Homo sapiens: one gene and its partners. The protein of the gene in region 3 interacts with the protein of the main gene of each other region in a biochemical or structural test. Each region holds a gene or a part of one and is shown on either strand. Other genes may lie near its edges. The genes, in order: ARHGAP21, MAGI1 and IQSEC2.

Region 1 (3,691 bases), on a different chromosome or scaffold from region 3:
GATTAGATTGTGAAATAATTTGCACAATACCCAATTTTATAAGAACATGGCAACTTAAACCATAAAACTATTTTAGTGAAAGCAATCCAAAATTGAGTTTTTTGCATTTAGATATCTTTCTACTTCAAACCAGGGAAGATATGGAAGGCTTACAATATTTTAACACATTTAATTACTTACAGTCAATTAAAATTAGATAAAATAGTAGGACAATCTTTAAGTCCAATAACCTTTCGTTTTAGTAATCTAATCACATCAACTAGACAGAAAAACAAGTGCCTACCATATGGTCTTTCTGTAACAGAAAATAGCTGCATTGAATAACAGCATCTGTGCATCTTATCAACGCTAGCATTGCCCATACTTAAATCAGCATATTGTTAACTATAATAAGAAGACAGGACCCTTCACAAAGCAAAGAACAAAAGAAACTGAATATTACCTTTGTGCTAGATTACTTGACCTGGTAGTAACTAAAGAAATGAAGAACATCAAGGCACAATGAACTTCATAAAACGCTTAACCTGGAAGAAATGAATGGGAAGGAACACTAACAATTTACGGAGAAATTCTTTAGATCTGGGTACTCACTTTGCTGATGGCTCTTATCTAGTGATAGGCCCCACTCAATACATTAAAATCCAGGCTTCTGCCGAAATGCCACTTAATGATCCCTGCTGCTGCTACTGCCATCATTCTCAATTCTAACAGGTTTTAGCTTTAACCCTAACTTGCAGCATAAAACTTTTGGCATGGAACAGTATTCTGACACTTAAATTCAGGTGTATGAAGAAACACAAAATTAAAATTAAATAATAGAGTTATACCATACTGTAACTAGTCTAGAATGAATCCTATGCCTCCAATGAAGAAACTTGCTTTTTAAAAATTGTTTTTTGGCCGGGCACGGTGGTTCACGCCTGTAATCCTAGCACTTTGGGAGGCCACAGTAGGCAGATCACAAGGTCAGGAGATCGAGACCATCCTAACACGGTGAAACCCCGTCTCTACTAAAAATACAAAAAATTAGCCAGGCATGGTGGCGGGCGCCTGTAGTCCCAGCTACTCGGGAGGCTGAGGCAGGAGAAAGGCATGAGCCCGCGAGGCAGAGCTTTCAGTGAGCCAAGATCACGCCACTGCACTCCAGCCTGGGCGACAGAGTGAGAGTCCATCTCAAAAAAAAAAAGAAAAGAAAAGAAAAGAAAAAGAAAAAATTGTTTTTTAAGTGTTGCTTTGAGCAGTGTGTATGCTTTTTAGTATTGTTTTAAGCAGTGTAGGTTTGCCACAAACCAAATTTTCACAAGACTGAATACATATTACCTATTTTTAAAGTCTATACATAGTGTTCTTTTATTGTCATTTTGGTAATAAAAAAGAGAAAATGTAAAAATAATATAATCCTGATATTCTCATCATTCAGAATAAACAACTGTTAACATTTCATCACGGTCAATGTTTGTGATCTTTTTTTAACTGGTTATGAAATATTTATGACATGAAAAAATAAAAATACATAATAAGGAACATCCATATACTAGCCATTCGTTTTAAGAAATAAAACATCATCCATACAGATTATCTTTTTATAGCTTCTCTTATCGACCAGTCTGATTGCCCTTTCACTTGTCTGTTAATTATCATGATCTCATCTCTTAGTGGAAATTGTTTCATACATTTGTACTACACATTGTCTTGGTTACTGTTACTTGGTTACCAGCTTCCCAAAGGTAAAAAAGGTGCAAAGAAAAAAGGCACCAAAAATTTTAACAGCAGTTCTAACGGAAATGAAATAGAATTTAAGGTGGGCAGGAGGTCTAAGGAAGAACATATTTCATACTGTACATATTTTATATAAACTAAAATAAGTATTCAGCTGGGCGCAGTGGCTCACACCTGTAATTCCAGCACTTTGGGAGGATGAGGTGGGTGGATCACTTTGAGATCAGGAGTTCGAGACCAGCCTGGGCAACATGGCAAAACCCCATCTCTACTAAACATACAAAAATTAACCAGGCATGCTGGCACACGCCTGTAATCCCAGCTACTCAGGAGGCTGAGGCAGGAGAATCACTTGAGCCTGGGAGGCGGAGGTTGCTGTGAGCGCAGATTGCACCACTGCACTCAAGCCTGCGTGACAATGCAAGGCTCTGTCTCAAAAAGAAATAAAATAAATAAGAATTCACATACTACATGTCCAAATGCAAACTCAGTAACATTTTGGAGTTTTGCTAAGTCTTTATTCATTCCAAAAACATATTTATTGACAACCTATTATGTGCTAGGCACTCTTCTAGGCACAAGAAACACAATGTGAACAAAACAGACAAACTGCACTCTCAACACCTGCGTTCTAGATATATTACCTGTCTCAAATAAACAAACAAAATCAAATGCATAAGCATGCCGGGTGGAGACTAAGTGATAGGGAGATAAAGCAAGGAAGGAAGGCAGAGCATGGCACAGGGAGCAGGGGAGGGGCATTCAACAAAGGGAGTGGTTGGCAAAGCTTCACTCGGAAGGTGACCTCTAAGCAAAAGCCCGAAGGAGCCAAGGAAGCAAGCTGTGCAGAGACTGGGGGAAGTGTTCTAAGGGGAGGGTTCAGTGAGTGGGAAGGCTCTGGGGACTCCCACGTTTGTGTACATGCAGAAAAGCAAGAGACCAGAATGGCTAGCACAGAGTGAGGCGGGAAGAGGCACAGGAGGTGCGCTCAGGGAGGGGGAAGGACCAATTATACAGGGCTTTGCAGGTCACTGCAAGAACTTTGGCCTTCAATCTTCAGAGAAATGAGAAGCCATTTGAGGAATTTGAGCAAAGGAATGACACAACTTGATTTATAAATTGTCTGTCCTGATTGCTGTGTGGAGAACAGGCTTTAGGCTGGCAAGGACTGAAGTGGAGAAATCAGTCAACCAGATCCACATGTCATATATGAGAAAAAAGAGAGACATCAAAGATCACTCCAAGATGCCTGGCCTGGAAGGATGGGATTGCTATTGCTTGAGATGAGGAAGACTGGAAGGAGCATACTTGGGAAGGTGGGCCAGGGGAATGGAGGTAGAGTCAGGATTGTGGTTTTAGATATGCCTATTTACTATTCAAATGGAGATTCTAGGCAGTCAGGTCAGTTGGATATAGGAATCTGATTCTGCGAGACAGAGGAGCAGGTCAGCAATAGAGATATACACATGTACACATAAAGAAATATAAGTGAGTGTGTGTGTGTCAATTATCTGCATATACTTGATATTTAAAACCATGAAACAGTATTGGGAGAAGAAATGAGGATTAACTGAGCTTTGAGGTGTAGAAAGGTTTAGCAAATCAGGATGTCGAGGAAACCTCAAAGAGACAGAAGGAGGTGACAACGAGGAAGGAAGATAATCAAGAGAGTATAATGTCCGGGAATCTAAATGAACACTGAATAAAATGTAAAGCCTTTCCTGCATATTCATTTATTCATTCAAAAAATATCACCTGACACTTACTATGTGTCAGTCCCTGTGGAAACAAACATGGTCCCTGCTCTTATAGGGACTGCAATCCAAGGGGGATATAGATAAACTTGTAACTGGTATTCCTGAAAGTGCAGGGTGTTTTGAGAGAATACACTAGGGGCAACTGAAAGAGTCTTGCGGGTCAGGGAAGGCTTTCCTGAGGAAGCAGTATTGAAGAAAAGACCAGTATGATGAGT
Region 2 (3,691 bases), on a different chromosome or scaffold from region 3:
TACTATAGGGTATAAAGTGCTTCTATTACTGATTTTAACAGCTAATAAAGTGTTCTTTCAGCACCTAGTGTCTTCCCTGCTAATGAGAATGTAATAATCACTCACAGAACATTGGAGCTTTCTCCTAAAAAAAAATCTCACTGCAGAAATCCAAGTTTAGAATTCATTTATTTAAATGGGGATCTACAGTTTTAGTAACTCATTGCTTTACTGTACTCAAACAGTTTCCCAAACTTAAAATGACTTCACAGGTTTTAATCTGTCCCAAGGGATGAATTTATGTAATGTGGAGACCTGGCTCATTCTCAAGGTGTTTAAAGCTGTAAACATGTGCAATCATGACGTTGCTTGGTCTTGCTCAAACAAACAACATCATGATTGCACATGTTTATCTCCTGGATTGGAGTCTCACCACACAGAACACACTAAGGCCATGTTGACGCTACCTGTTTCCATCTTGCCATCCAATGCAGCAGGACCATCTAGGACCAAGCTCTTGATCTGGAGAAACTCATCAGGTTCATCCCCTCCAACCACCGTGAAGCCAAAGCCACGACTGCTTTTCCGCAGCTTTGTGTGAATGAACTTGCCTTTCAACTCAGAAGGGTTTCGTGTAAAAAAGGGTTTGCCTGGATTAAAATAAGAAACGCATAAGGAATGTCACCACTGGTGAAAAGGAGAATTAAACAAGATTTGAGACAACATATAGATAATTCTTCACGCTTATGCCCTAGAGCCTTTGGGCATATAGCATCTTAAGAAAGTCCTCTCTTAATTTGAGGAATAAGGATGTTCCTAGGCCCCAGTGTTGATGGAGGGAGGTAAAGCATTGAGTATGTCAACTCCAGGGTCCAAAAGAAACTACAAGAGAGGGATGAAACTAGTCCCTGTCAGGTGACACACTTCTTGGTTTCCATTCATGCACTTTGACAGGAATTGAGCTGCCACAAACCCCTTCACAGAAAATGGAACTGGTCTGTTTTATGTCTTTTGTTTTGTTTTAATTTTATTTTGCTATATGGCTTCTGATGTGCTGCTTTGGGCCTGGCTTCCACTTGAAAAACCAACAGAACTAATCAAACGGAAAATCCAGGCTGAAAATGCACAGATAATACCAGAAAACATATTATAGTCACAAATAATAATTTGACAAAAATGTAGAATGACTATTTTCAAAATTAAGGGTCATTACTTTGAATTGAATTCTAAATTCAACTGATTTTTTCCTATTTATCTGATCTTTTATTAAATTTGTGATATAGCCAACGCATGCCTAGGGCTAAGAATTACTGTTTAAAACAAGTTTAGGATATTTGTTTAAAAAACACAAACCAAAAAAACAAACAAAGAAACCCCCCCCACAACACACACACACAAAATCCCTAAACTAAGTAGTTACTAACAGTAGCCACACAGCTCCAAATTCAGCTGTCTTATTTAAAATAAATTAGGCTGGGGGTGTGGTGGCTCATGCCTGTAATCCTAGCACTTTGGGAGGCTGAGTCAGGTGGAGCACTGAGGTCAGGAGTTCAAAACCAACCTGGCCAACATAGTGAAATCCTGTCTCTACTAAAAAAAAAAAATACAAAAATTAGCCAGATGAGGTGGTGGATGCCTGTAATCCCAGCTACTTGGGAGGCTGAGGCAGGACAATCACTTGAATCCAGGAGGTAGAGGTTGCAGTGAGCTGAGATTGCGCCATTGCACTCCAGCCTGGGCAACAAGAGCAAAACTCTGTCTCAAAAAAATAATAAAAATAAAATAAATTTACAGATAGAGGTATCGCTAAATTATTTCCAAACATGCTACCTAAGGTTTTATTGAGTTTTCTTGATACATTCACAAATAACATTTTGAACATAAACCAAAACGTTTTCTTTTGGGTTTTACTAGGCACTTCTCTGTAATTGAGAAACTTACTGGAACTTCTCTGATTATCCCAAGTAGTAGACCTAATTTCATGAGCAGCTTCTTTCATCTCTTCTAACTTTACTTACTTCTTATACCCTGTCCTTGCCACACACAGCTTCTCCATCTGCCCTGTTTCTTTTCTATCAAAAATGTTATCCAAAACAAAAAGAGAGAGAGAAAGAGGGAGACATTAGTCCCCTACACCCCTGTACTAGGAGCCTGGCACCTAGGAAAGAAAGTTATTTTTGGTTAGTTATATCTAAAAGAGTTTAAAAGGTCTCTGGGCATGCATACAATTTTTAATTGCATATTTTAAAAGTTTCTGGCTCTTGCAAAGAAGGCTCTTTTAAATTGCCTGCAATCAGAGGTCCTTTCGCTAACCTGCTCTCTAGCGCAGTCCCAAAGCTTATTGGAAGGTTGACAAACTACAGCCCTGTCATAGTGGCTAAAGAAAGGCAAGACTTACAAGGATTCGCCACGCAAAGTCATCTGCCAAGGCGTTGGGAGGGTGGTGTCACTTGCACCAAGAGCTTTGGGGAGACAGCTGCCAAGACAATTATCAGATGGAAATTGAGGTGAGGTAAGATAACCCCCAAAGTTTACTTTAGGGGGAGGAGGGTGACTGGCCTACACTCTTGTAGCAGGTGCTGCTAGGGCATTCCAGGGCCCTGAAGGGAAACACATTTCAGTTATGCAGAGACATCAACAGCCATTACCTTCGCAGCAAGACCTTCCCTAACCACCTTACTAAAAATTGCAGTACCTCCAACATTCCCAATCCCTTTTTCCTGCTTTATTTTTGTCCTTAGCATTTACCACCTTCCAAAAGAATATACATCTTACTTATTGCTTTGGTTTTCTTACTATCCCCAACTCCCATGCATGAGTGGCATTGATATGCAGGTACATAAAACCACTAGAATGTTAGCTCCATGAGGATTTTTATACGTATATCAAGTATCTAGAATATTGTCTGGTACATTTTATGTGCTCCAAAAATTTCTGTTGAGTGAGAGAATGAATGAACAAATAAAAGCACACAGAAATGATATTTATCATGTCTTTGAGAAGGCTGAAAAGAGGTGTTTGGTTGTTGGAGCTTTTCACTCTTATTATAGGCTAAGTTAGAAAACGTGAAAATGTGCCTGGCAGTTTATCTACTTAAAAAAAAATACATTAGCATATTTTGTGCTGAGAATGTTAACTTAATAAAGACATGAGCAGAGCTTTGAAATTATACGACTGACTTCCTTTTCCAATGTTTAACAAGGGAAGGAAAATCAGAGGGTTTCACATTTATGCACATTTTATTATTTTTTACGTATGGGTGGATCATTAGTTAATGTAGCTTTTGGAAAGAAACGCTTTTCACCCCATAAGCAGTGGAATTTGGAGCTCTCAGCTGCAGCCCTGTGGTACATGTAATTTTCTAAGATCCTAACCTCTGTTTACCAGTCACCAGCGGTAAGACTTGGTTGTGTCTTACCCAGGGAAAATCCCCTGGGTAGCTTTTTAAAATGTACTCATTTTCACTTCCTTCCTTAGACTCACTGATCAGGATGTTCTGGGTCTTGGCCCAAAACTCTGCACCTGAATGAACCTTAGGTGCATGTTTCCCTGCCAGGATGGGGGGAGGGGAAAGAAATGTCACTTCTTGACACTAGTGTTTAAATACCCTAGACCAGTACCGTCTAATGGCACTTTCCGTGATGATGGAAATGCTCTGCACCTGCACTGTTCAATATGGCAGCCACTAGTCACATGTAGCCACTGAGCCCTT
Region 3 (3,569 bases):
CTTCTAGTGAAAGGTATCAGGGAGAAGAATCAGAGTATTGGAGGTAGGACTATAGTTTTAGATCCCAGGTATACTACTCATTATCTGGGTGAACTGCAGCAAATTGCCTAACCTGCCAAGCCCCAGTTTCTTCCTATACGAAATTGGGGTAATGAAGTCTCCTTCACAGAGTCATGGAGATGAAATGAGACAAGGTAGCCGAAATGTCCCAACACATCTTAGGCATTCAAAAAATCCGTATTTCCTGTCCCACCCTCTCTCCTCCTCTGCCCACATATCAATTCCTGAGCTGAATCCCAGTGGGCTATCCTCTCAGCCCCCAGGGGCCACACCAAGTCATTTTGATCATATATATATAATGGAAAATAGTGATTACATCTCATTCCTCCCGATGCCCTCCAAGTTTTCTCTTCTCCAGGCTAAGCAGTCACAGTTAAGTAACATGGTGTTAAGGAGAAAGAGGCAGGCAGACAGAGACGAGGCGGCGGACAGCTCCTTGGTGAGGCCTTCACAGCTCCAGGGCCACTCTACTTCTCAGCGAGGCAGGGATAGAAATTTCAGTTCACCAGATCCTTTGAGACCCTGGGGAAATCCTGAGAGAGGGATTAGTAGCCCAAGACGAGGGGAGGCCAGTAGACACGTGTTTCTATGAGCTCCGTGGGGAGGTGGGGCTGTAGGAGGCCGGAAGCACCCAAGCTCTGGAATCAGGCAGACCTGCTTCCAGAATGTCGGCTCTGCCATTTCCAGCTGTATGACCCTGGGCAAGCTCTAAGACTTCTCGGATACTCAGTTTCTTCCTCTGCACAATGTGGATGCTAATACTGACCTCAGAACTGTTGTGAGGACTGAGAGAGATCAAGTATGTGTAGCGCCCAGCATACTGCCTGGCACATAATAAGAGGATTTGATTCCTGTCAGTTTCCTGCTCCTGCCCTTCCAGGAGCCCCTCTGCTCCGGAGCAAGGTATCTGAGAACTGACTGAACTCTGGAAAGATTGCCCTTTGCCATAGGCTAGAAGGGCCTTACCATCCTTACTGTGAACCATCTGCCATGAAGCTCTTTTTTGAAGGGCAGGGGTGCTTTGGGAGACCTGATTGCAAGAGGGCATGGGAGGGGAGAAGTCAGAAGGGTGAAAGGAAGGGAAAGGGAACAGGGAGAGCAGGCACCAAGAGGGATGAAGGGAAGGCTGAGCAGGAAGGGAGGGTGCAAGACAGGAGCTGGGCACTAAGGGTGCTTCGGTGATGGAGCTGCAGTTTTGGGGGAGACAAGGGCTGGTCGTCCAAGGGGCAAAACACGAAGCCTGGGGACAGAGGGAGGGAGGAGGGAGGAGGAAGGAGAATGGCCCATGGAGGGCTAGGGTCAGTCAGATGGGCTCTCACTCCTGTTCCTGACCTTTGCTCCCTGTCTCCCCGACTGCCACCCAGCGGAGCTGGAGAAGCAGAAAGGTATGATGCGGCCTAACGCCTCACAGCCTGGAGGGGCCAAGGACTCAGTGAATGGGACGATGGCCCGCAGTAGCCTGGAGGACACTTACGGGGCAGGCGATGGGCTCAAACGGGGCGCACTCAGCAGTTCCCTGCGAGACCTCTCTGATGCAGGTAAGCCCTCTGGGCCCCTGCCCTGGCTGGGGAGACACGGGACCGGGTGTCCTCTTTGCCTCCTGTCACTGGCCGCCAGCCTTCCCTCCACCTGCCACACATGCACGCACCCTGCCTTCACCCAGAGCCCTGGGCGCTGCGCCACAGGGGGCCTGGGAGCCAGGTCAGAGCAGGGGGAGCCCAGCTTTTGGGCCAGGGAGTGTGAAGTGGGGCCACAGTCTTGGTCCCTCTCTCTCGCTGCTCCCCCTCTCCTCCTCTTCTCCCTCTTCTGTCTCTCCTGTACCTCCACTCCTCCTTCTCCATCTTTTCCTCCTCTTTCTCCTCCTTCTCCACCTCTCCTCCTCCCCGCCTCCCCCTCTTCAATGGGGGAAAGGGATAATGGGGTGTCTGTCCCCGGGAGGGGCCCAGTCCTGGTGCCCAGCTCTGGAGCCCAGCAGGGTAGGGGGGGGGTTGCTGCTCTGACGCTGGGCTCCTTGCTTGTGGGTGCAGGGAAGCGGGGGCGGCGTAACAGCGTGGGATCGCTGGACAGCACCATCGAAGTAAGTGCCAGCTCCTGCCCCACTCGTCCTCTGCATGAGCCCTGCCCCGGCCATGGAGACCCAGAGGAGGAGGGGACCTGTTGCTCCCCCTCTTCCCTGCTGGGAACCATGCGGCTGCCTCTCCCAGCCAACCACTCTCTCCATCTGTCCTCAACTCTGTCTGTCCTCATTCTGCCTGTCTCTCAGTCTGTCTTCCACTCTCCCGTGCCCCCTCTCAACCCCAGGGCCGACGGCGAGTAGGGATGCCCTTGGAGTTGGGCCACGAGAAGCTCTTACCTCCAAGTCCTGCTCTTTGACCCTGGGCGAGTCACTCTGCCTCTCTGGGCCTAACCTTTTCCCTGCCTGCAAAATGGGGATGAGGAGGAGGTACTGCTAATTTCTCCTCTCCCAGCTGAGGCTCAGCTGAGATAGTGGATGTGACAGCCGAGCTTTGCAAGCTGGGGAGCTCCACATACGCGTACCGGACTGTGATTTGGTTTTTATTACAACTTGGGGTTTGCTGTCTCCCCAGCTCCAGCCCTCAGGGACAGGGGTGGAATTTAGGGCTGGGGGTTTAGGGCATCTAGCCTGGCCTGACTTCCCCCCTCCCCGCTTCCAGGGGTCTGTTATTAGCAGTCCACGCCCTCACCAGAGGATGCCACCTCCGCCCCCACCCCCGCCGCCAGAGGAGTACAAGAGCCAGAGGCCCGTCTCCAACTCCTCATCCTTCCTGGGCTCCCTATTTGGAAGCAAGCGGGGCAAGGGGCCCTTCCAGATGCCACCACCGCCAACAGGCCAGGCCTCTGCCTCCTCTTCATCTGCTTCTTCCACGCACCACCACCACCACCACCACCATCATGGCCATAGCCACGGTGGCCTGGGGGTGCTGCCTGATGGGCAGTCCAAGCTCCAGGCCCTGCATGCCCAGTATTGCCAAGGACCGGGCCCTGCCCCGCCACCCTACCTCCCACCCCAGCAGCCCTCTCTTCCCCCACCTCCCCAGCAGCCCCCACCCTTGCCCCAGCTGGGCTCCATTCCACCGCCTCCCGCCTCAGCCCCACCTGTGGGGCCACATCGCCACTTCCACGCCCATGGCCCAGTCCCAGGGCCCCAACACTATACCTTGGGCCGGCCAGGCAGGGCACCCAGACGGGGGGCTGGAGGACACCCTCAGTTTGCTCCACATGGCCGCCACCCCCTGCACCAGCCCACATCCCCACTGCCCCTGTACAGTCCTGCCCCCCAGCACCCTCCAGCCCACAAACAGGGCCCTAAGCACTTCATCTTCAGCCACCACCCACAGATGATGCCAGCAGCAGGCGCGGCTGGGGGCCCTGGATCCCGGCCACCAGGGGGCTCCTACTCCCACCCCCACCACCCCCAGTCACCATTGTCACCACACTCACCCATCCCACCCCACCCCTCCTATCCACCCCTCCCCCCACCCTCCCCT

What was found.
Region 1: the proteins of IQSEC2 (region 3) and ARHGAP21 interact in a test that uses a peptide from one of them, tested with the Homo sapiens proteins (one large-scale study listed by IntAct).
Region 2: the proteins of IQSEC2 (region 3) and MAGI1 interact in a test that uses a peptide from one of them, tested with the Homo sapiens proteins (one large-scale study listed by IntAct).

What each region holds. Positions count from the first base shown.
Region 1 is NC_000010.11:24,713,855-24,717,545, forward strand, and holds part of ARHGAP21 (rho GTPase-activating protein 21), read right to left. Parts: intron 1-3,691. UniProt on the Homo sapiens protein: Functions as a GTPase-activating protein (GAP) for RHOA and CDC42. Downstream partner of ARF1 which may control Golgi apparatus structure and function. Also required for CTNNA1 recruitment to adherens junctions.
Region 2 is NC_000003.12:65,430,253-65,433,943, forward strand, and holds part of MAGI1 (membrane-associated guanylate kinase, WW and PDZ domain-containing protein 1), read right to left. Parts: intron 630-3,691; coding exon 447-629; intron 1-446. UniProt on the Homo sapiens protein: Plays a role in coupling actin fibers to cell junctions in endothelial cells, via its interaction with AMOTL2 and CDH5. May regulate acid-induced ASIC3 currents by modulating its expression at the cell surface.
Region 3 is NC_000023.11:53,234,351-53,237,919, reverse strand, and holds part of IQSEC2 (IQ motif and SEC7 domain-containing protein 2), read left to right. Parts: intron 1-403; coding exon of another isoform or gene 404-423; exon of another isoform or gene 424-747; coding exon of another isoform or gene 748-755; exon of another isoform or gene 756-1,418; intron 1,419-1,424; coding exon 1,425-1,598; intron 1,599-2,087; coding exon 2,088-2,137; intron 2,138-2,361; coding exon of another isoform or gene 2,362-2,433; exon of another isoform or gene 2,434-2,704; intron 2,705-2,735; coding exon 2,736-3,569. UniProt on the Homo sapiens protein: Is a guanine nucleotide exchange factor for the ARF GTP-binding proteins.